Linked DNA regions of Homo sapiens. The protein of the gene in region 2 purifies or fractionates together with the protein of the main gene of each other region. This does not show direct contact. Each region holds a gene or a part of one and is shown on either strand. Other genes may lie near its edges.

Region 1 (5,097 bases), on a different chromosome or scaffold from region 2:
CAGGGTCCAGGTCGCATTGTGTGACCTCAGACAGGTCACGCTGCTTCTCTCTGCCTCAGCTTCCTGAGCAGAAAGGCAGTAACTGTAATGCTTATCCTAGAAGTAATCCCCAGTAAACGTTAGTGATTTCCTTTTTCTCTCTACAACATGCTGGGGGCCCAGGCAGGCTCCCCCAAGGGCACCTCCCTCTTGGACAAGGGTCCCTCTAGACGCAGGCCTGGCAGGTGGCTGGCATGGCTGTGGCCTGCCTTCCGATGCAAGGATCAGCACTGAGCGAAGCACTGTTCCTGGGGAGGGGAGTCCAGAGCTGACCCTTAGGCTGGCCCACCCCTTGCAGGCACAGGAGGGGAGTGCCAAGGCTGAGCGGCCAGGCCTCCAGAACATGGAGCTGGCGCCTGTGCAGCGCAAGATCGAGGCTCGCTCGGCAGAGGACTCCTTCACAGGCTTCGTCCGGACCCTGTACTTTGCTGACACCTACCTGAAGGACAGTGAGTGGCCAGCCTGGGGTTGGGGGGCAGGGGGTAGTGGGCAGCAGACACCCCCTGACCTGGGGGCATGCCGGGGGCTGCTGCCTGCCTGGCTGGTAGGAGCTAAGAGGTTTCCCCTTGTGAGCAGGGGCAGACTGCAGCCCCTGCCTGCTTACTCCCCTCCCCTGCCTCAGCCTCTGAGTCAGCTTCCCTTGGCTTTATATCCAGGCCGTAGCACCCTTTAGAAGCATGGCCTCAGACCCATCACTTAGCCTTTCAGGGCCTCAGCTTGCTTCTCTGTAAATGAGGAAGTGACAGCTTCCTCCTAGAGCAGCTGTGACGATCGGGGACAGCAGAGCCTGCTGGTCTCCAGATGACGTGTCTCTCCCTGGCTGGTTCTCCCCTGCTGTATCACAGCAAGGGCTGAGCTGACCTGGGATTGGGGTCTTCTATGTTGGGGCCTGTGTGGTTGTCAGAGAGCCTTCCAGCCTCTCCCAGGAGGGAAAACCTGGGAGTAAACCCTGGTTGCCCAGCTCCACCCGACTCCCACGCTAAGGGTCAGACACCCAAACATGGCTTCTCGGCAGGCTCCCGGCACTGCCCCTCGCTGTGGGCTGGCACCAATGGGGGCACCATCTATGCCTTCTCCCTGCGTGTGCCTCCCGCCGAGCGGAGAATGGATGAGCCTGTGCGGGCAGAGCAGGGTGAGTGCTGGGCAGGGAGAGCAGAGGGTGCTCGGGCTGCCTGGGCTGGGTCCAGGGAGTGGCTCCAGCCCTGCCACCCCCTCACCAGCCCCAACACCCACCTCCTCCCCCTAGCCAAGGAGATCCAGCTGATGCACCGGGCGCCGGTGGTGGGCATCCTGGTGCTCGACGGACACAGCGTACCCCTTCCCGAGCCCCTCGAAGTGGCCCATGATCTGTCGAAGAGCCCTGACATGCAGGGAAGCCACCAGCTGCTCGTCGTATCAGAGGAGCAGTTCAAGGTGCCACACGGGCAGCGGCGGGTCTCCCTGGGACTCCCCGGGACATCCAGGAGGCTCGGACCTTGGGCAAAAATGATGGCTGGGACTCAGTCTTGTTTGCAGTTGGTGTCTGAGGGGCTGCAGAAGTACAGGAAATAAGTGAGGGGGGAGTCTCGTGTGAGGACACTGAGGCAGGACAGGGGGCCAGGCGCGGTGACTCATGCCTGTAATGCCAGCACTTTGGGAGGCCAGATCACAAGGGCAGGAGTTCGAGATCAGCCTGGCCAATATGGTGAAACCCTGACTACTAAAAATACAAAAAAAAATAGCCCGGCATGGGCCAGGCGCGGTGGCTCATGCCTGTAATCCCAGCACTTTGGGAGGCCGAGGCGGGCAGATCACAAGGTCAGGAGATCGAGACCATCCTGGCTAACACGGTGAAACCCCGTCTCTACAAACAAATGCAAAAAAATTAGTTAGGCGTGGTGGCGGGCACCTGTAGTCCCAGCTACTCAGGAGGCTGAGGCAGGAGAATGGCGTGAACCCAGGAGGCGGAGCTTGCAGTGAGCCGAGATTGTGCCACTGCCCTCCAGCCTGGGCGACAGAGCGAGATTCCGTCTCAAAAAAAAAAAAAAAAACCAGCATGGTGGTGGACGCCTGTAATCCCAGCTCTACTCGGGAGGCTGAGGCAGAAGAATTGCCTGAGGCGGAGGTTGCAGTGAGCCGAGATCACACCACTGTACTCCAGCCTGGGCGACAGAGCAAGACTCCATCTCGGAGGAAAAAAAAAAAAATCCAGATAGGGAAGTCGGTGACCTCGGCATCCTCCCAGGCCATGTCTGTGCATCTGAGAGCCAAGGGTTTGTCAGGACACCGGGAGGCATGTGGGGAGGGGAGGGCCCAGCAGCAGCAGCACAGGGCAGGAGAACTGGTTTGGCCATGGGCATGAACAACCACCCCACGCCCCCAGGTGTTCACGCTGCCCAAGGTGAGTGCCAAGCTGAAGTTGAAGCTGACGGCCCTGGAGGGCTCAAGAGTGCGGCGGGTCAGCGTGGCCCACTTCGGCAGTCGTCGAGCCGAGGACTACGGGGAGCACCACCTGGCAGTCCTTACCAACCTGGGCGACATCCAGGTGGTCTCGCTGCCCCTGCTCAAGCCCCAGGTGCGCTACAGCTGCATCCGCCGGGAGGACGTCAGTGGCATCGCCTCCTGCGTCTTCACCAAATATGGCCAAGGTGTTTGAGCCGGGCTGGGTGGGTGTCGGGGCCCCGGGCACTGCACGGACGGGAAGGGTGGCCAGGGGTGTTGTGGCCACGGCCAGACTGGATGGGCCTTAAGCGGAGAACTGCGAGGGAGCACTAGCCCCTACTCCCCCAGGTGGGGAGGCAGCCTTGGCAGCCGCCAGGCCAGGCCGCTAGCATTGCCCCCACTCCCCAGGCTTCTACCTGATCTCACCCTCGGAGTTTGAGCGCTTCTCTCTCTCCACCAAGTGGCTGGTGGAGCCCCGGTGTCTGGTGGATTCAGCAGAAACCAAGAACCACCGCCCTGGTAACGGTGCGGGCCCCAAGAAGGCCCCGAGCCGAGCCAGGTGAGTGAAAGGGCCAGAGGCCTCTCCCGCCCCTCCCGCCCCTCCCTGCCCTCTCTGAGATACCGAGGCTCCCACTGCTGCCTGGCTGGAGGCACCTCCCCACGAGCTCAGCCCACCCTCCCAGGCTCCGGCTCTCCTTGCCTCTTTGCGTGCCCCTTGCCCCTGTGCAAGCTGGCAGTCCAGGGCAGGACTCAGTTTACCTCCCAGGCTCTCCGGCTCAGGACAGGCTGCGCCATTGACTTGTTCTTCATGGGACCAGGGCTCTCAGAGCCGGGCAGGGAGCCCGGGGGCCCTGGTCCTCACTGTCTCTTCCCCCACAGGAACTCAGGGACTCAGAGTGATGGCGAGGGTAAGACAGGCCTCCTGGGCTCATGCACACCTGGGCCACACCCGGCCCAGACCTGGGGCTGGACGGGAGGGAAGGGTCCCGAGTGAGCAGGTAGTGTTTGGGCTGGGAATAGAGACGGCATTCCTTCCAGCCCTGGGCCCTGGGCTTCCACATCCTGACCTCAGTAAGGAGAGAGAGAGCCAGGCCGAGGAGGGCCCAGGCGGGGCGCCCTGACCCGGCCTCTACCTTCCAGAGAAGCAGCCCGGCCTGGTGATGGAGCGCGCTCTGCTCAGTGATGAGAGTGAGTTGGGTGGGAGAGGGTGGGGCTGGCAGGAGGGGTGGGGAAGGGGGGTCAGGGTCAAGGGAGGCTGGGCAGGCCACTGCCCTGAGGCGGGGTACAGATCCATGGGCACCCACGGAGAAAGGGGGTGGAAGGGCTGTGGCTAGCCGCCCCAAGGGCCTCAGTGGGCCTCTGTTCCCACCCGGCCTGCAGGAGTCCTGAAGGAAATCCAGAGCACACTGGAGGGAGACCGCGGGTGAGGCACCGCCCAGGCCAGCTGGGGTGGGCCCGAGGCTCTGCCAGAGGGCTCAGGGGAGCGCTGAGAGTGGAGGTCCCTGAGGCCATGACTCCCCTGTCTTTGCCTGTGCAGGAGCGGCAACTGGCGTTCACATCGAGCCGCCGTGGGGTGCAGCCTCAGCAATGGCGGAGGTGGGGGCTCTGGGCTTGAGTGCAGCTGCCAACCGTGCTGGGAAGGGCTGGGAGGAAGAGCCCCGGCCCCACTCCCCTGGGTCCCACGGGGCTGACACGTGCCCTGATGACCAGGAAAGCACCATGTCTGGGCTCAGCGTGGGCGGCTGGGGCACCCCGTCCTGCCCAGGGTGATCTTGAGCTGTCCCTCTGTGTCCTTCAGCAGAGTGAGTGGCTGAGCGTCCAGGCTGCGCGATGAGCACACACTACTACTGATGGCCTTTCGGGGGTCCCTGCCCCAACCGGAGAGGCCGGTGCACAGGGCCCCGCCAGGGGCTGGGGGCATCCCGGCTTCCACAATGCAGCTGCTCTGGGCCTCGGGAGAGGAGAGACCCCAGTCCCCTGGGCTGCCCTTCCCGGGCCTCGTCTGTCTGGGTCCTTTGGTCAATGTTGCACAGTTTTTATTGCTCCCATCCCTTTTTGTAGTGGGCTGGGTTTTAAGTTATAAATGTTAACTGCCTCTGGGTGAAAAAGTTTTTAATAAACACCTATTACCTCTTGACTGGTCCACTACTTTAATATTTTAATTGTGTAGAAATTTTCCATGTGAATGGAAAGTGGGAGCCGGTACCCTGCCTGTCCCCCGAGGCTCCAGCCCTGGCCTGGGCCGGTGTCAGGAGAATCCACTTGGGGAGCCGTGTGAATCAAACTGCTTCGTTTTGTCTGAGCCCGGCGGTGCCTTCCCTCTGTGGGAACACATGGCAAGCACGAACCATCTTGAGTCTGCCTGACTTTTTCCCTGGGTCCTGGCCGCCCCTGGCTGGCCTTTCCCTACTGTCAGAAGAAGGACACCCACAATATCTCAGACCTGATGGCTTCCTCCAGACACCAGGGAGGACTGTGGGGTGCTGCTGAAGCGGGGCTGGTACCCAAGGAGAAAGGCCTTCCCCAGGGGAGGGGCTGGGTTATTTAGATTGGACATGGGCTGGATCTTTATTGACTCGTCTTCGTTGAGCACCTACTGTATGGCCAGTGCGTGGGGTTCTCCGGTGTCTGAGACAA
Region 2 (7,123 bases):
GAGTTAAATACTGCAGGTCAGAATTCTTTGGCATTTTAAGATATTGGGTTGGAAAACTGCCTTAGGTTCTCTCAGAATTTTTGTCATTCACCATTTGCCACAGATGGTCAGTCCCCAGTGCTTAGGGACAGGACCCTGGTGTGTGTGCGCGAGGGGCCATATGGTCTTGATCTTGACCTGGTGGCTTTTCCTCATTTTGCAGCCCTTATACTTCTCCAAACATTTTTACCTGAATTCCAGTGATTCATCTGTTCCTCACCAAACCAGCTGCAGTATGTACTTCCAATTCCCTAGTTCTGTTCATGGGACCACCCTTTTCCCACTTAGCTTCGACTTTGGCCTCTCCTTCCACAGGACCTGCCGTGGGGAGGGAGGAGCTACGCAGAGGGTTAGGGTGTTTCACGTGGAGGAGAGCAAGAGTCCTTGGCCACCTTAGAATGCAGCGGAAAAGCCAGTGCTGGGATCGGAAGGGGTTTACAGGGGGCGGTAAATGGAGATGAATTTTCATATGAGGAGAAGACAGCAAGCAACACGGTGCCACTACGAACTTAGCAACGCCTTTACCTACGTCAGTATTGCGTCAATTCCACTGTCGTCCGCATGAGCTTGAAAAATCCAGAGAAACACAGCTCATCCCCGCTCCCAGCAGTGTGCTCAGCCCAGAGCCCCGAGTTCCTTCAGACGTGAGCGTAGATGGCCCGCTGCTCATGCCCTCGGCCCACGCTTTCTTTGGCCTGTGTTTCCCTAGTTTGTGGCTTCCCCTACCTGAAATGCTTTCTCTGAGAATCTGCCCTATCCTGAGGACCTTCTTAGACAGCTCCCTCTTCTACAAAGTCATTCTGGATGCCTGTGCCAGAACAAACTTTCTCTGTCCGACCCCTTCTTGGTGTTTCTGGTCATCTTATTGGCACTTGTCATGATGCTGGTGCCACAGTTATGTTCGGCACAGATTGTCTGTCGTGTTAATTATATCTGAGGGAGAAGGTTTTCATCCCATTTGTGCTTCCTGATTAAATAATGATGGGGCTTTTTTGGATTCTAAGCTAACACAGTGTCATCGTAGGAAATTTAGAAACCACAGCCAAGCACAAAGAAGGGCCAACACCATTGGTAGCTCTCCTGTCCAAAGGTGAGCCACTGTTAAATGTTGCCTCTGGCCTTCCGGTCTTTTGTGTGCCTGTATGATGCACGCATTCTTGTGTTACAGAATTTGGGTCAAATAGGCATGTCATGGTGTAGCCGGCTTCCCCTCTAACTTATCATGTATTGCGAGTGTTTTTTCATGTCAGTAATATTTTTAGACAACAGAAAAGACTGCATCATATTCCTGCTCATGTCTAAACCATGACTAACCAGTATCTTAAGTTAACCCCAATTTTTTCCACAGTAAACAGTGCTGTAAATAATATCTTTAAGTCTTTATATAAAGATTATATATAGAATATACACATATAAAATATGTAAAGATTATTGATTATATTAAACCAGTGCAAAATTCTTACTGATCTTTAGAACAAATTCCTGGAAGTGACATCACCTGGGAAAGGCACGTACTTTTACAGGCTTTGAGTGCGTATTTCTACTTTTCTTCTGGAAAGTTTATTTTACCAATTTATAGATGCTGTTTCATATCTATTCATTCATCTGTTTCTTTCTCCCCATCCCTTTCTTCTTTCCTCCTTCTAGCGCTGGGCATTTTCTCATTCTTTCCCAATTAGATGAGTGAAATGGTATCCCATTGTTTTAATTTGTATCTCTTAAGTTATTAGAGAGTTGAAATTTTCGTATTTATTGGCTATTTGTGTATTTATTTTCAACTGCCTGGTTTTGTCCTGAATCCTTTTTCTCTGTTAGTTTTCTTGGGAGTTAATAAGTTATGGGAGCTTCTTGTTCGCAATGTTTCCAATCAGTGCAGATGGTGCTGAGGGTGACTGGCTCTGAGAGTGTTGTGACCTTGCCCCCAGGCATTAAACTTGGGCCCTCCAGGATGACAAGGGTATGAGGAGCCTGTTGGTGGGCTGGCTGATGCACTGGCTGGCCAGGTTCTCCTGGGGACAGCCAGGTGTGCAGTGTTTTGTGTTAGCATATCTCCTCTGGTCCCCAAGATCTTACTGCTGGCTGAGGCCGTTGGCTGCCATGGTGCTGCAGGAACATGCCCTTCCAGCTGTGTGATGTGCGACAGCCGGTGGGATGGAGCTGAGGCCAGGCCTCCCCATTGGGTGGCTGACACTTGCCTCCTGTGGGCCAGTTAAGAATTGCCTGGACATGGTTTGACTCACCTGTGTGTGTCAGCTACACCCTTTTAAGACTTTAGTTTTGTTGTATTTGTGCATGTCTGTGCTTAAACAGGTTCAGTGACTTGATTTGGGAAGTCACATCTTAGGGAGACTTACCAGGGACCCAAGTGCAGAGTCAGCCTGGGGGGCACTGATGGCGTCACTGCCCCTGGAGGCTGCCAATTTCTTGTAGGTCTGTGGCCTGGGAGACTCTGATGGCCTTCCAGGTGGGCACCCCAGCTAGCCAGGGGGTAGAGCCCTTTCCTAGGACCCATGGCATTTCAGATAGAAGGCCCTAATTTTAGGGAAGTGAAGGAATATCAAGGATTGGGAGATGCAGCCATTCAAGGTCTCAGAAGCTCTGGCGTTTGTGAATCACGTCCAGAATTAGTACAAAGGGGAGAGGCATCCTGATCTTTTCCCATAAAGGGGTCTCCATGACCTTTAGAGGCAGCAAGAAGGGAGCCTGGCATGACAGCAGCAGAACCTTCCAGGTGGTTAGATGTGTTCACTTGGCTGCTTACATGTCAAATCCACTTCCTCTGGGCAAATTTCTACTGCACCATGACCCTGGGGATCCATGGGAGGTACATGCTCCTGTGTAGGCCCCAGCCTCTTCCCAACACACACCCTGCGGCCCTGCCCCGAGTCCCCCAGGCTGGACGTTGCCTGCTGTGCAGAGAGGTTGTGTTCTGGAGTATTAATAACATTTACTTAATGCCCCTCCAATATACGTGCATATATGTGCCAGGGACCATCCTAAATACATTGCAATTGCAGATAGTTCACTAATGCCCATCACAATACTGTAACGTGGGCCAGGGACCATCCTAAATGCATTGCAATTGCAGATAGTTCACTAATGCCCATCTCAATACTGTAACGTGGGTTCGTTTATCACACCCACTATACAGATGAAGAGGAAACTGAGTCACAGGGTGCTTCACTGACCTGCCGAAGGTCATAAAGCTCATAAGTGGGGTTGGAACCCAGATAGTCTAGCTCCAAAGTCTAGAGTGGGAACCACCAGTTGTCCGTGGCTGCTGGAAGAGGGCTCACACCCCTCTCAGGATCCAATAAGCCATGAAATACAAACCAGGACACAGGTGCACACATTCCCAGCTCACCGTGCATAGGGTGAGAGACTCCCTCAGCTGTCTGAATCTGGAGCTTGCAAGAAACAGCTGGGAGGGTTAGTCTTGTGTTTTATGGGGAGAAGTTCTATTTTTCTTGCATCACTGTAGAAGGTTCTTGCTGCATGGCCTCACGGGAAGTCCTCTATTCAGTAGCTATTCTTTCAGAGTCTGATCTTATCCATACATTTGTTTACTCATTTACTGAGCAACTACTTTGTGGCAGGCATAGGGCATGTGCTGGGGTAAAACGTACAACATCCCTGCCTTAAAAACACCAGTGAAGGTTCAGTCAGGTAAGTGGGCAGATTTGGGTGAGGTGGAATGTCCTTTGTCTTGATAATCAAGCTATCACCAGATCCACAGCCTCACGTCTCCTTGAAATCGGAGGTTTCCGGTGCAGCCCAGTCATCCCACCACCCCGCAAGACCAGTCAATGTGCTGAGTCTCCCCTGAAATTGCTCTGATAGTCTCTGCATCGGCAACAGTGATGCCTGTGTGAGGTGGTTTGAGATTCTAGGCCAGGTCTCCATAGCTCCCAGAAGCAGGTAGGGTCCAGTCCCCACTTGTCCTTATTTGGGGCTCTTTAATCCTCCCCACATGTTTTCAGAGGCCAGTTCAGAACCCTAGCTGCGTTTCTCAATGGCGTGCTGTGTAAGGAAGAGCTCAGCATTGGAGGTGGGAAGAGCAGTGCCTTGTTTATATTAGGGACACAATCAGTGTTCCTTGGGTCGAATTCAGATGAAAAACAAGTGGGTTTTCCTGACAGCTACTGGTTCAGAAATGGTCCGTTGAGCAAATTTAGAAAATTACTTTTTGAGGAAAGGGACAACTACTTGCACTTTTGAGCTGATGCTGGAACAAGTTAGGACTTTTGGGAACTATTGAGAAGGGATGATTATATTTTGCAGTGTCATAAGGACATGAGATTTGTGGGAACAGGGAGAATGTTATAGCTTAGATATTTGACCATCAAAACCTCATGTTGAAATTTGGTCCCCGATGTTGGAGGTACAGCCTAAACGGAAGTGTTTGGGTCATGGAGGTGGATCCCTCGTGAATGGCTTGGTGCCATCCTCATGGTAATGAGTGAGTTCTTGCTCTATGAGTTCTAGCAAGAGCTGGTTGTTAACAAGAGCCTGGCTCCTCCCCCGTTGCCTCCTCTCTTGCCACATGATCTCTGCACATGCCGGCTCTCCTTCCACCTTCCACTGTGAGTAGAAGCAGCCAGAAGCCCTCCCCAGAAACAGATACTGGCACCATGCTTCTTGTACAGTCTGCAGAACTGTGAGCCAAATAAGCTTCTTTTCTTTACCAATTAAAATGTATTGATACATTGATTTGCCAGTTGGCTCATTGCCGGGGCATCCCTGAGAGGCGTCAGTGGCCTTGCCCTCTGTATCCTGTGAAGGTAAGTGGCACTAGTGCTGTAGCTGAGGGGAAAAGGTGAGGTACTTTGGAAATTAAAAGCCCACATAGCTATTTCTGTTGCTGTTGGCACCTCCTGAGTTTCTCAGTGCTCAGAGATAGGCCAGGAACCTGCTTGTTGCCAGCTCAGCAGCTCCAGGGGTGCTTGTGCCCCTTCCTTGTAGACCAAGCTTGTCCAATCCATGGCCTATGGGCCACATGTGGAACAGGATGGCTTTGAATAACGTGGCCCAACACAAACTCATAAACTTTCCTAAAACTTTATGAGATTTTTTTTTGGTAATTTTTTTTTTAGCTCATCAGCTGTCATTAGTGCATTTTATGTGTGGCCCAAGATGATGATTCTTCCTCCAGTGTAGCCCAGGGTACCCCTGTTGTAGACCAGCAGCCCTACACACTTCCTCTTGCAGAGTTGCCTGGGCACACTCAAGTGCTCCAAGGACCAGCCCACTGGGAATGGGGTGGCTGGACCAGAGCACTTCTGGTACAGCTGTGTCATCAGGTACCTTCGACCCCCTCTTCTCCCTGCTGCTCCCATGTTCCTGGGGTCTAAGGACGAGCTCTCCTGTACCCTGGCCCCTGCCCCACCTCTCCCTTATTCTCCCTTCACATCAGTCACTCATCCCATACTTCATAGACAGTGGCAGAGGAGTCTAAGAGGGGAGGGCTCCACTCCCCAGCCCCAACCAGAGCAGATCTGCTTGGTTTTGAGATACATGTGTAGCATTTCACTTGGGGGAAGAAAAGGCTTTCGCTGATTAAAAAGTTTGAAAACCACTGTAGTGCAGGATGCTTTCAGCCTGGGCACCGAGGCCCTCCCACGTGGCCTACGTGAAACTACTAGTCTATCTGTCACCTCCCACTTCCCCCGCCCGCCCCCCGATTCTGTGACCTCCCAGCAAGCCGATCCTTTCCTACTCTTGCCAGTGGAAGTTCAGCCTTGCCTTCCTGCCTCAGGGCTCAAATCACTGCCTGTTCAGGAAGCTGTCCCAGACCCCCTTAGCCCAACGACAGTGTCTGCTGTGTTCAGTGAGTGTATTACAGTGAAATACACTCATCTTAAGTGTACGGCTTGGTGGTCAAGATGCAGAACATTCCAGCATCCAGGAAGGTTCCTTCATGCCCTTTTCTAGTGAGTACCTACCCCCGAGGTAACCACTATTAGGGTCTCTATCGCCAGACCAGTTTTTTGTTTTTATTTTTATTTTTTTTACTTTTGGTTAAAAAAATAGTTGTTTTTTTTTTTGTTATACTTTAAGTTTTAGGGTACTTGTGCACAACATGCAGGTTTGTTACATAGGTATACATGTGCCATGTTGGTGTGCTGCACCCATTAACTCATCATTTAACATTAGGTATATCTCCTAATGCTATCCCTACTCCCTCCCCACACCCCACAACAGGCCCCAGTATGTGATGTTCCCCTTCCTGTGTCCATGTGTTCTCATTGTTCAATTCCCACCTATGAGTGAGAACATGCAGTGTTTGGTTTTTTGTCCTTTCGATAGTTTGCTGACACTGATGGTTTCCAGCTTCATCCATGTCCCTACAAAGGACACGAACTCATCATTTTTTATGGCTGCATAGTATTCCGTGGTGTATATGTGCCACATTTTCCAGTCTATCATTGTTGGACATTTAGGTTGGTTCCAAGTCTTTGCTATTGTGAACAGTGCCGCAGTAAACATACGTGTGCATGTGTCTTTATAGCAGCATGATTTATAATCCTTTGGGTATATACCCAGTAATGGGATGGCTGGGTCAAATGGTATTTCTAGTTCTAGATCCCTGAGGAATCGCCACACTGACTTCCACAATGGTTGAATTAGTTTACAGTCCCACCAACAGTGTAAAAGTGTTCCTATTTCTCCATATCCTCTCCAGCACCTGTTGTTTCCTGACTTTTTAATGATCACCATTCTAACTGGTGTGAGATGGTATCTCATTGTGGTTTTGATTTGCATTTCTCTGATGGCCAGTGATGATGAACATTTTTTCATGTGTCTTTTGGCTGCATAAATGTCTTCTTTTGAAAAGTGTCTGTTCATATCCTTCACCCACTTGTTGATGGGGTTGTTTTTTTCTTGTAAATTTGTTTGTGTTCTTTGTAGATTCTGGATATTAGCCCTTTGTCAGATGAGTAGATTGCAAAAATTTTCTCCCATTCTGTAGGTTACCTGTTCACTCTGATGGTGTTTCTTTTGCTGTGCAGAAGTTCTTTAGTTTAATTAGATCCCATTTGCGAATTTTGGCTTTTGTTGCCATTGCTTTTTGTGTTTTAGACAT
Region 3 (7,123 bases), on a different chromosome or scaffold from region 2:
ATGCTGGACAGTGCATGTAACCTCCTTTCCTCGTTTGTAAAATGGGAAGGCTGTGGGGATTTGCGATGCAGTGTCCCGTCTCTGGACCCTGGTTGTAGCGAGGGACTGGCTAGACAAGGTCAGGTGCAGCAAGGGCGTGGTATTATTGGTGGGAGAGAGAAGCCCCAGCCAAATCGCCAACTCTGTCCTTAGGTGGGCTTACTGTCCCAAGGGCCCAGATGAGAGACTGAAGCTTGGAGAGTACTGAGTCTTGGAGAGTACTGTGACTTGCCCAAGGCCAGACAGCTAGGCCGTGACCAAACCAGCTGCCCAGAGGGCTCAGTCCCCACCTGGATGGGCAGAGGCAGGCAGGGAGGGAGGTTCGCGTTACAGGCTGGGAACTGGGGTTTCTTACAAATGTGCATCTTCCTGAGGCAGTGGGTCAGGAATTACCAGTGGTAAAAGTGAAAAATAAATAACAACAACAAGATAAAAGGAGTTACCAGTGGCCCACGTGGGTGTCCTGCACTGGTGTTCAGGATGGGGCTGGAGCTCAGCTGTGCAGGCTTCCCAGGGAGGGCACAGCCAGGCCAAAGACAGGAGACTGGTGCAGAAAGGGTGTGCTGTGAAAGGGGCAGGGGAGCGGGTGGGGAGCTGTTTCATCGACACTCTGGGCACACAGACCCCCTTAACACCATCTCCGCCCCTGATGGTTATGGGAGTCATGTTGCCCAGCTGTTGGCAGGTGGGGAGGTGGGAGGATGCCTTCGGGGTCCAGGCAGAAAGCTACCCCTCTCTGGGCCTCTGTCTCCCTGTGTCTGGGAGGAGTCAAAAGCCTCTGCCTAGCTGATCCTGGATGTTGTCCCTTGACCTCTGACCTCCACTCAGGCCTGTGTTTGGGGAGTGTCATGGTCATCTTGCGGGACTCCTCCGCAAGCTTTAGTCTGTGCCTCTAAAAATGGGGTGCAGAGCCCTTCATGGAGCAGGTGGGGCCTCATCAGTGCCTGCACCTCTGTGAGCCTTGCTTCACCTGTTTGTTGCTGGAGCCTCCATGCAGTGGGGCCCACATGAGCCTGTGTGCATTGAGGGGCACAGGGGCTTGGCAAAGGGCGGGCCTCTGTGGACTATGCACGCGGTACAGTCATGGTGGAGGCTAGGGGTTTAGCCACCTCCCCACCAACTGGAGGCATGATAACCCATTTCACAGTTGAGGACGCTGAGGCACAGAGCAAGTAGACCTGCCTCCTACCCCCAGTGTGTCAGCTGCAGACCCTGGAGGCTGCCTTGGGGTGGGCCTCAGGGTGGGCCATGGCAGAGGTGCCTGGGAGTGCTTACCCCCAGCAGCCCTCCCCTCCTTGCAGACTGTGGAGCATGGCTTCCCCAATCAGCCCAGCGCCCTGGCCTTCGACCCGGAACTTCGCATCATGGCCATCGGCACCAGGTCTGGGGCTGTCAAGATGTATCCTTTGCAGGACAGGTGTTCAGGGTCTGTTCAGGACCACCTGCCTGTAGTTCCCTGTGCTCTGGGGTCCCAGTCTTGGCAGTGTCCAGCTCGAGAGGAGGACAGAGGTGCTCTGATGGGCAGTAGTGGGGGCTTCTGCGGAGGTTGGCGTGGCTTCTGTACCTGAGACAACTGTGCAGAGATGATGGGGTCCTTTTGCTGAGAGACGGGTGGTGGGGGGTCAGTTTGCAGTAGCACAGCTGTCCCTTGCTACGTGTCAGCCAGCCAGTTACCTAGGCGACCCTGCCATCGTCCCAGCAACTCTGGGGAGGCCAGGCAGAAGGCTGGGCTATGATACCCATGGAGGGTGGCAGGTGGGCTGGGGGCCCTGGTGAGCTGATGCACACATGTGTGAATGTGAAGACACATGTGTTCAGCAAAGGGGCCTGGGGGCAGTGCCAGGCTCGGCATGGTGAGCACAGCACGGCCCCCACCTGGATACTGGCTGCTGCACAATGGGCTGTGTGAGCCACACAAAGCGGGCATTTTCCCTGCAGGCCTGGGGTGGGGGTGGGGGCAGGCCGGCAGCTCAGTGTCTCCTTGCCAGCCCTGGAGAATCCCACCCCAACTGCTCTTGGGGAAGCCGAGGTGCCAGGGTCTGGCTGATGGCGGCTTGGTGAGGGGTGCTGACCCCTACCCCTCCTGTGTGGCCTTCTGGGTTTCAGTATCCTGGTTTCAGACATCAGTTCCCAGAAAATGTGTCAGTGCTGGGAAAGGGGAGGGTGTGGGATGGGGGTCTCCTCACCCCAGGACTGGGGGCACTGATCAGGCAGGGATGGGACTCTGAGCCTGTGGTTTGTGAGCTCTTTGCCTACTCTGGGGAGTGTGGATGGGCTGAGATGTCCCCTTCTCTCCCATGGCCCCAGCGGCCTCTGTTGGTGAGTGTGGCAGTGCTCTGGGCCCCACATGCTCCGCTGCCTGGCCTGCTGCTCCCACTCCTGTGGGTGCTGCGCTGCGTGCGCACATGTGTCCCTGCAGCCTTCAGGTGTCCCTCCTGTGTTGGGGTCTCCAGTGCACTTGTCCTCAGGCTCAAAAAGAACCTGAAGTGCAGATGAGGAGACTGAGCCTCAGAAAGGAGGCTGGAGCCCGGGGTCCTCTTCCCTTTTTCCCCTGACTGCCACTGCCTGGAGCCCCTTGGGTTGGGAAACTGAGGCTGGAGAGGGCCAGCCCTGGTCACTAGAAGCTGCCCCTCCCCCTGCCAGGCCAGCCCCATCTCCTTGACGACCCTGGTTCCCGCCCAGCTGCTCCTGTCCCCTCTTTTGTCCCTTCTTCGGAGTTTCTCGCCAGGCTCCTGTAGGGAATCTGAGCTCAAGCTCCAGGCAACGGCTCCTGTGTTGTCACCGGGGCAACGTTGCTGACTCCTCCCTGCACCCTCTGTCATGGGGCCCCCTCAGGCCCTGCTGTCCACCATCAGCCCTGGAGTTGCCGGGACTCAGGCACTGACACTGGGCACTTCAAGCAGGTCATCCACCCCCTCCAAGTCTGTGTGCTCATCTGTGAAATGGGCAGGCTGGAGTCTCTCCTCCCTCATGATGGCAGTTGTTGGCTGCCTGCTTTGGAGGGAGGTGGGTTTTTTTTGTTTTGTTTTGTTTTTTTGAGATGGAGTCTTGCTCTTTGTTGCCCAGGCTGGAGTGCAGTCGCACAGTTTTGGCTCACTGCAACCTTTGCCTCCCGGGTTCAAGCAGTTCTCTGCCTCAGCCTCCCAAATAGCTGGGATTACAGGTGCCTGCCAGCATGCCCGGCTAATTTTTGCGTTTTTAGTAGAGACGAGGTTTCACCATCTTGGCCAGGCTGGTCCTCAACTCCTGACCTTGTGATCTACCTGCCTCGGCCTCCCAAAGTGCTGGGATTACAGGAGCGAGCCACCGTGCCCAGAGGAGGTGGGTTTTCTTACCCATGGCTGAAGTTTGGCCTGAAGCTGTGGGAAAAGGCAGCCTGGACTCTTCTGCCCCCTGGCTTTCTTGTCCAGGCCTGGCCTTGCACCTCTGGCCTGCCTGATCCCATCCGGCAAGGCGCAGCTCCCAGAACCCATAGACACACGGAGCTGAAGTGGAGCGGAGCCCCATCCTCTCACCAGGCTGAGGCCAAGCCTGCTGGGTGTGTTTATTCTCACTTGATCTGCAACAGTCCTGTAAAGTGGGAGTCACTGGCCCAATTTACGGGAAGTGAAGGTCCTATAGCAGCACCTGACTTGCAGGAGTGAGTGGAGCCTGCACACTGATCTTGGGGATACTGTAGGGGTGCAGAGTGGGAGCTTTAGGGAGGGGGCCTCCGTTCTTCAGGGAGGACTCCTGGATGGTCAGGCCCATGCCGGGGCCCACTGGAATAGTCCGGGTCAAGGAGGAGCCTTGGGTGTCTTCCTCACTGTGGTTTGCTGGTCTATGCCTATTTCCACCTTGACCTGCCACCCTCAGCTATGGTGCACCTGGCGTGGAGTTCACAGGCCTGCACCGGGATGCAGCCACTGTCACACAGATGCACTTCTTGACCGGCCAGGTGAGCCTCTGCTTCCCACTAGCCAGCTCCCTGTGGCCCCCATATCTACTCATCCCCCTAGGCCAGCCTAGTTTTCATCTCTGCTCACACACCAGGGCCGCCTCCTGTCCCTGCTTGATGACAGCAGTCTGCATCTCTGGGAGATTGTCCACCATAATGGCTGTGCCCACCTGGAAGAAGCACTCAGTTTCCAGCTGCCCAGCCGGCCCGGCTTTGATGGTGCCAGGTACTGGAGAACTTGGCTGGGGCCAGCCACCGGGCAGGGAGGATCTGGGGGAGGCTGTGGGAACCTGCTGTGCAAAGGCAGCATGGAGATGGGCAGCGGTTCAGGGCGGGATGCCTTGAGCTGGGCCTGGGTCCCAGGCTGCAGCTGTTGGACCCTGCTTTACTGAGGTATACTCTGAACTTTTCAGGTTAAATGGGAGGTTTGGGTTGAGTCCGACGTGAGCAGGTAATTAACATTGTGAGCAGCAGGAGGTACATGCATTATATGCCAAACTTCTAGGACCTGAGGCCTGGCACTACACTTACTGCAATGATGGGGGTGTCTAGGGGTTTGGGGCAGGGCCTAAGCCAGTTAGTAACAGGAAGGGTCCCCTGGCCTCTTCAGTTGTGGGTGGGAGACAGGCCTTTCTGTGCATAGGCAGGGTTGAGGGCAAGGAGGGTCCCATGGGCTGTGCTTGGTAAGGCGCTGGCAGCATGCCCCAGCTGAGTGAGAGTGTGGGGCATCTCTCTCCCCAGCCCTGCCTGAAATAGCTGGAAAAGGGGAGTACCAACCCAGGGATGGATTCCTGATGCCTCCCAGCTTCTGCAGATGGGGGTATCTGGGGCCCTCCTGCGAAGTCAGGAGATGTCTGAGCGCTGGCAGCGGGATTCCTAGGAGGGGCTCAGCGGGGAGCTCCTGGTCCTGGCTTGGGCAGTGCCCTGGTTCCTGCTGTCCTCTCCTGGTGGGTGGGAGGAGCTGGGAGCCCAGTCTGCAAGACCTAGGGACCCTATTTTTATCCATCTCCCTGCTGACATCCTGATGAATAATTGAGCGGGCTGATGATGATGCATGTCTTCCTGGGGTGGCTCTGTAAGTAGGCCCTGGTGAGTGCTGTGGGGCCAGTGATGAGTTATCAGCAGTGGCCCAGCCCCTCACACCCCACCTGAGCAGGTGGATGGGCTTGTACCCTCACTCCCTTCCCCTTGTTCCCTGCAGTGCTCCGCTCAGCCTTACCCGAGTCACAGTGGTCCTGCTGGTGGCTGCCAGCGACATAGCAGCCCTGGGCACTGAGGGCAGCAGTGTCTTCTTCCTGGATGTTACCACCCTGACCCTGCTCGAGGGGCAGACGCTTGCCCCAGGCGAGGTTCTGCGCAGGTAAGAGGCCGGTGGGCTTCCCAGCACCCACTGTGTGCCCGGGAAGTTCTGCTGGCTCACCTGCCTTCCTCCACAGCGTGCCAGACGACTACCGCTGTGGGAAGGCACTGGGCCCCGTGGAGTCACTCCAGGGACACCTGCGGGACCCCACAAAGATTCTCATTGGCTACAGCCGGGGCCTGCTGGTCATCTGGAACCAGGCCTCGCAGTGTGTGGACCACATCTTCCTGGGGAACCAGGTATGTAGGTGAGGCCTGTGTCCCCTCAGCCTGGGCCCCTTGTGCATGCCCACCATGGCTCATGCCTGCCTGCCTGCCTGCCCCTGCCTGCCCGCAGCAGCTGGAGAGCCTATGCTGGGGGCGTGATAGCAGCACTGTGGTCAGCTCACACAGCGATGGCAGCTATGCTGTCTGGTCTGTGGATGCCGGCAGCTTCCCAACGCTGCAGCCCACGGTAGCCACCACACCTTACGGTGAGTGCTGGGGACACCTTAGCCAGAGGGTGGTGATGGGAGGGGGCACCACTGAGCCAAGCCAAACTGGCTGAGGAGGGACTTCCCCGAGGGGGTGGTCTGGGGGCAGTGTGTCTCCCGCCGACTTCCCGGGGAGGCAGGAGGCAGCTGTAAGGTAGAGAGCAGTGGAGGGCAGAGCAGGAATGGCAGAATTGCTAAGAACCACCAGTGAGTCTGGTCTGACGCTGTCCCACCCCTCAGGCCCCTTTCCCTGCAAGGCCATTAACAAGATTCTGTGGCGGAACTGTGAATCTGGGTAGGTCGAGGGAGTGGGTGTCCGATGTGAGTTGGGTCTGGCTAGGGGGCTGGAAGGGTGGGCTCTCCCTAGGTTGTGCAGTATGTGCTCTGGACCCAAGTGGTTCATGGCTCGCACACCTCCCTCTGCACATAGGGGCCACTTTATCATCTTCAGCGGTGGCATGCCCCGTGCCAGCTATGGTGACCGCCACTGTGTAAGTGTGCTTCGAGCCGAGACATTGGTGACGCTGGACTTCACTTCCCGCATCATCGACTTCTTCACAGTGCACAGCACACGGCCCGAGGATGGTGCGTGCCCTGCCGTACCCTACCCTTTCCCAGCCCCACCTGGTGCCCTCTGCCACCTATGGCTGTGCTCACCCCATACTCCCTCCGTCCCACAGAATTTGATGACCCCCAGGCCCTGGCTGTGCTGCTGGAAGAGGAGCTGGTGGTGCTGGACCTGCAGACTCCTGGCTGGCCAGCTGTGCCTGCCCCATACCTGGCCCCGCTGCACTCCTCTGCAATCACTTGCTCGGCCCACGTGGCCAGTGTCCCCGCCAAGCTGTGGGCCCGCATTGTGAGCGCTGGCGAGCAGCAGAGCCCCCAGCCTGTCTCCAGTGCCTTGGTGTGTGCGGCGATCAGGGGGGTCTTACAGGGTGGAGTCTTGAGGAGGGGGAGAGTTTCAGTTCTAAGCCCGGAGGTCAGAATGTGCCATACTCGGGGTGAGAGGGAGAAGATGTTCGTCCTAACCTTGTGCATACATCTCTGCCACCCCCTCCCAGAGCTGGCCCATCACTGGGGGCCGAAACCTGGCCCAGGAGCCGTCACAGCGAGGGCTGCTGCTGACGGGGTAGGTGTGCGTGCTTATGTGGGTGAGTGGGCCCCTTGCTGTTGGGGGAGAGCCCATCCTGGGCCTGGTGGGTGCAGAGGTGCCAGGAGACTCAGGCCTGGCCCCTGGTGGGACCAGGTAGTTCCTCCTTGCCCAAGGTGGTTTGGAATGAAACCTCCCTGGACCTTGGTTCAAGGTGCTGCCCTG

What was found.
Region 1: the proteins of PARD6G (region 2) and LLGL2 purify together in Homo sapiens (affinity purification with mass spectrometry; 5 studies listed by BioGRID and IntAct, with this or other methods). This does not show direct contact.
Region 3: the proteins of PARD6G (region 2) and LLGL1 purify together in Homo sapiens (co-immunoprecipitation; 2 studies listed by BioGRID and IntAct, with this or other methods). This does not show direct contact.

The regions. Positions count from the first base shown.
Region 1 is NC_000017.11:75,570,613-75,575,709, forward strand, and holds the end of LLGL2 (LLGL scribble cell polarity complex component 2), read left to right. Parts: intron 1-337; coding exon 338-488; intron 489-1,054; coding exon 1,055-1,171; intron 1,172-1,285; coding exon 1,286-1,452; intron 1,453-2,401; coding exon 2,402-2,666; intron 2,667-2,868; coding exon 2,869-3,019; intron 3,020-3,339; coding exon 3,340-3,368; intron 3,369-3,498; coding exon of another isoform or gene 3,499-3,581; exon of another isoform or gene 3,582-3,594; intron 3,595-3,600; coding exon 3,601-3,648; intron 3,649-3,840; coding exon 3,841-3,883; intron 3,884-3,997; coding exon 3,998-4,056; intron 4,057-4,258; coding exon 4,259-4,266; coding exon of another isoform or gene 4,267-4,294; 3' UTR 4,295-4,597; downstream 4,598-5,097. UniProt on the Homo sapiens protein: Part of a complex with GPSM2/LGN, PRKCI/aPKC and PARD6B/Par-6, which may ensure the correct organization and orientation of bipolar spindles for normal cell division.
Region 2 is NC_000018.10:80,237,452-80,244,574, reverse strand, and holds part of PARD6G (partitioning defective 6 homolog gamma), read left to right. Parts: intron 1-7,123. UniProt on the Homo sapiens protein: Adapter protein involved in asymmetrical cell division and cell polarization processes. May play a role in the formation of epithelial tight junctions. The PARD6-PARD3 complex links GTP-bound Rho small GTPases to atypical protein kinase C proteins.
Region 3 is NC_000017.11:18,228,601-18,235,723, forward strand, and holds part of LLGL1 (lethal(2) giant larvae protein homolog 1), read left to right. Parts: intron 1-1,340; coding exon 1,341-1,438; intron 1,439-3,894; coding exon 3,895-3,976; intron 3,977-4,071; coding exon 4,072-4,202; intron 4,203-5,177; coding exon 5,178-5,336; intron 5,337-5,412; coding exon 5,413-5,575; intron 5,576-5,672; coding exon 5,673-5,808; intron 5,809-6,048; coding exon 6,049-6,103; intron 6,104-6,238; coding exon 6,239-6,393; intron 6,394-6,488; coding exon 6,489-6,712; intron 6,713-6,869; coding exon 6,870-6,937; intron 6,938-7,123. UniProt on the Homo sapiens protein: Cortical cytoskeleton protein found in a complex involved in maintaining cell polarity and epithelial integrity. Involved in the regulation of mitotic spindle orientation, proliferation, differentiation and tissue organization of neuroepithelial cells.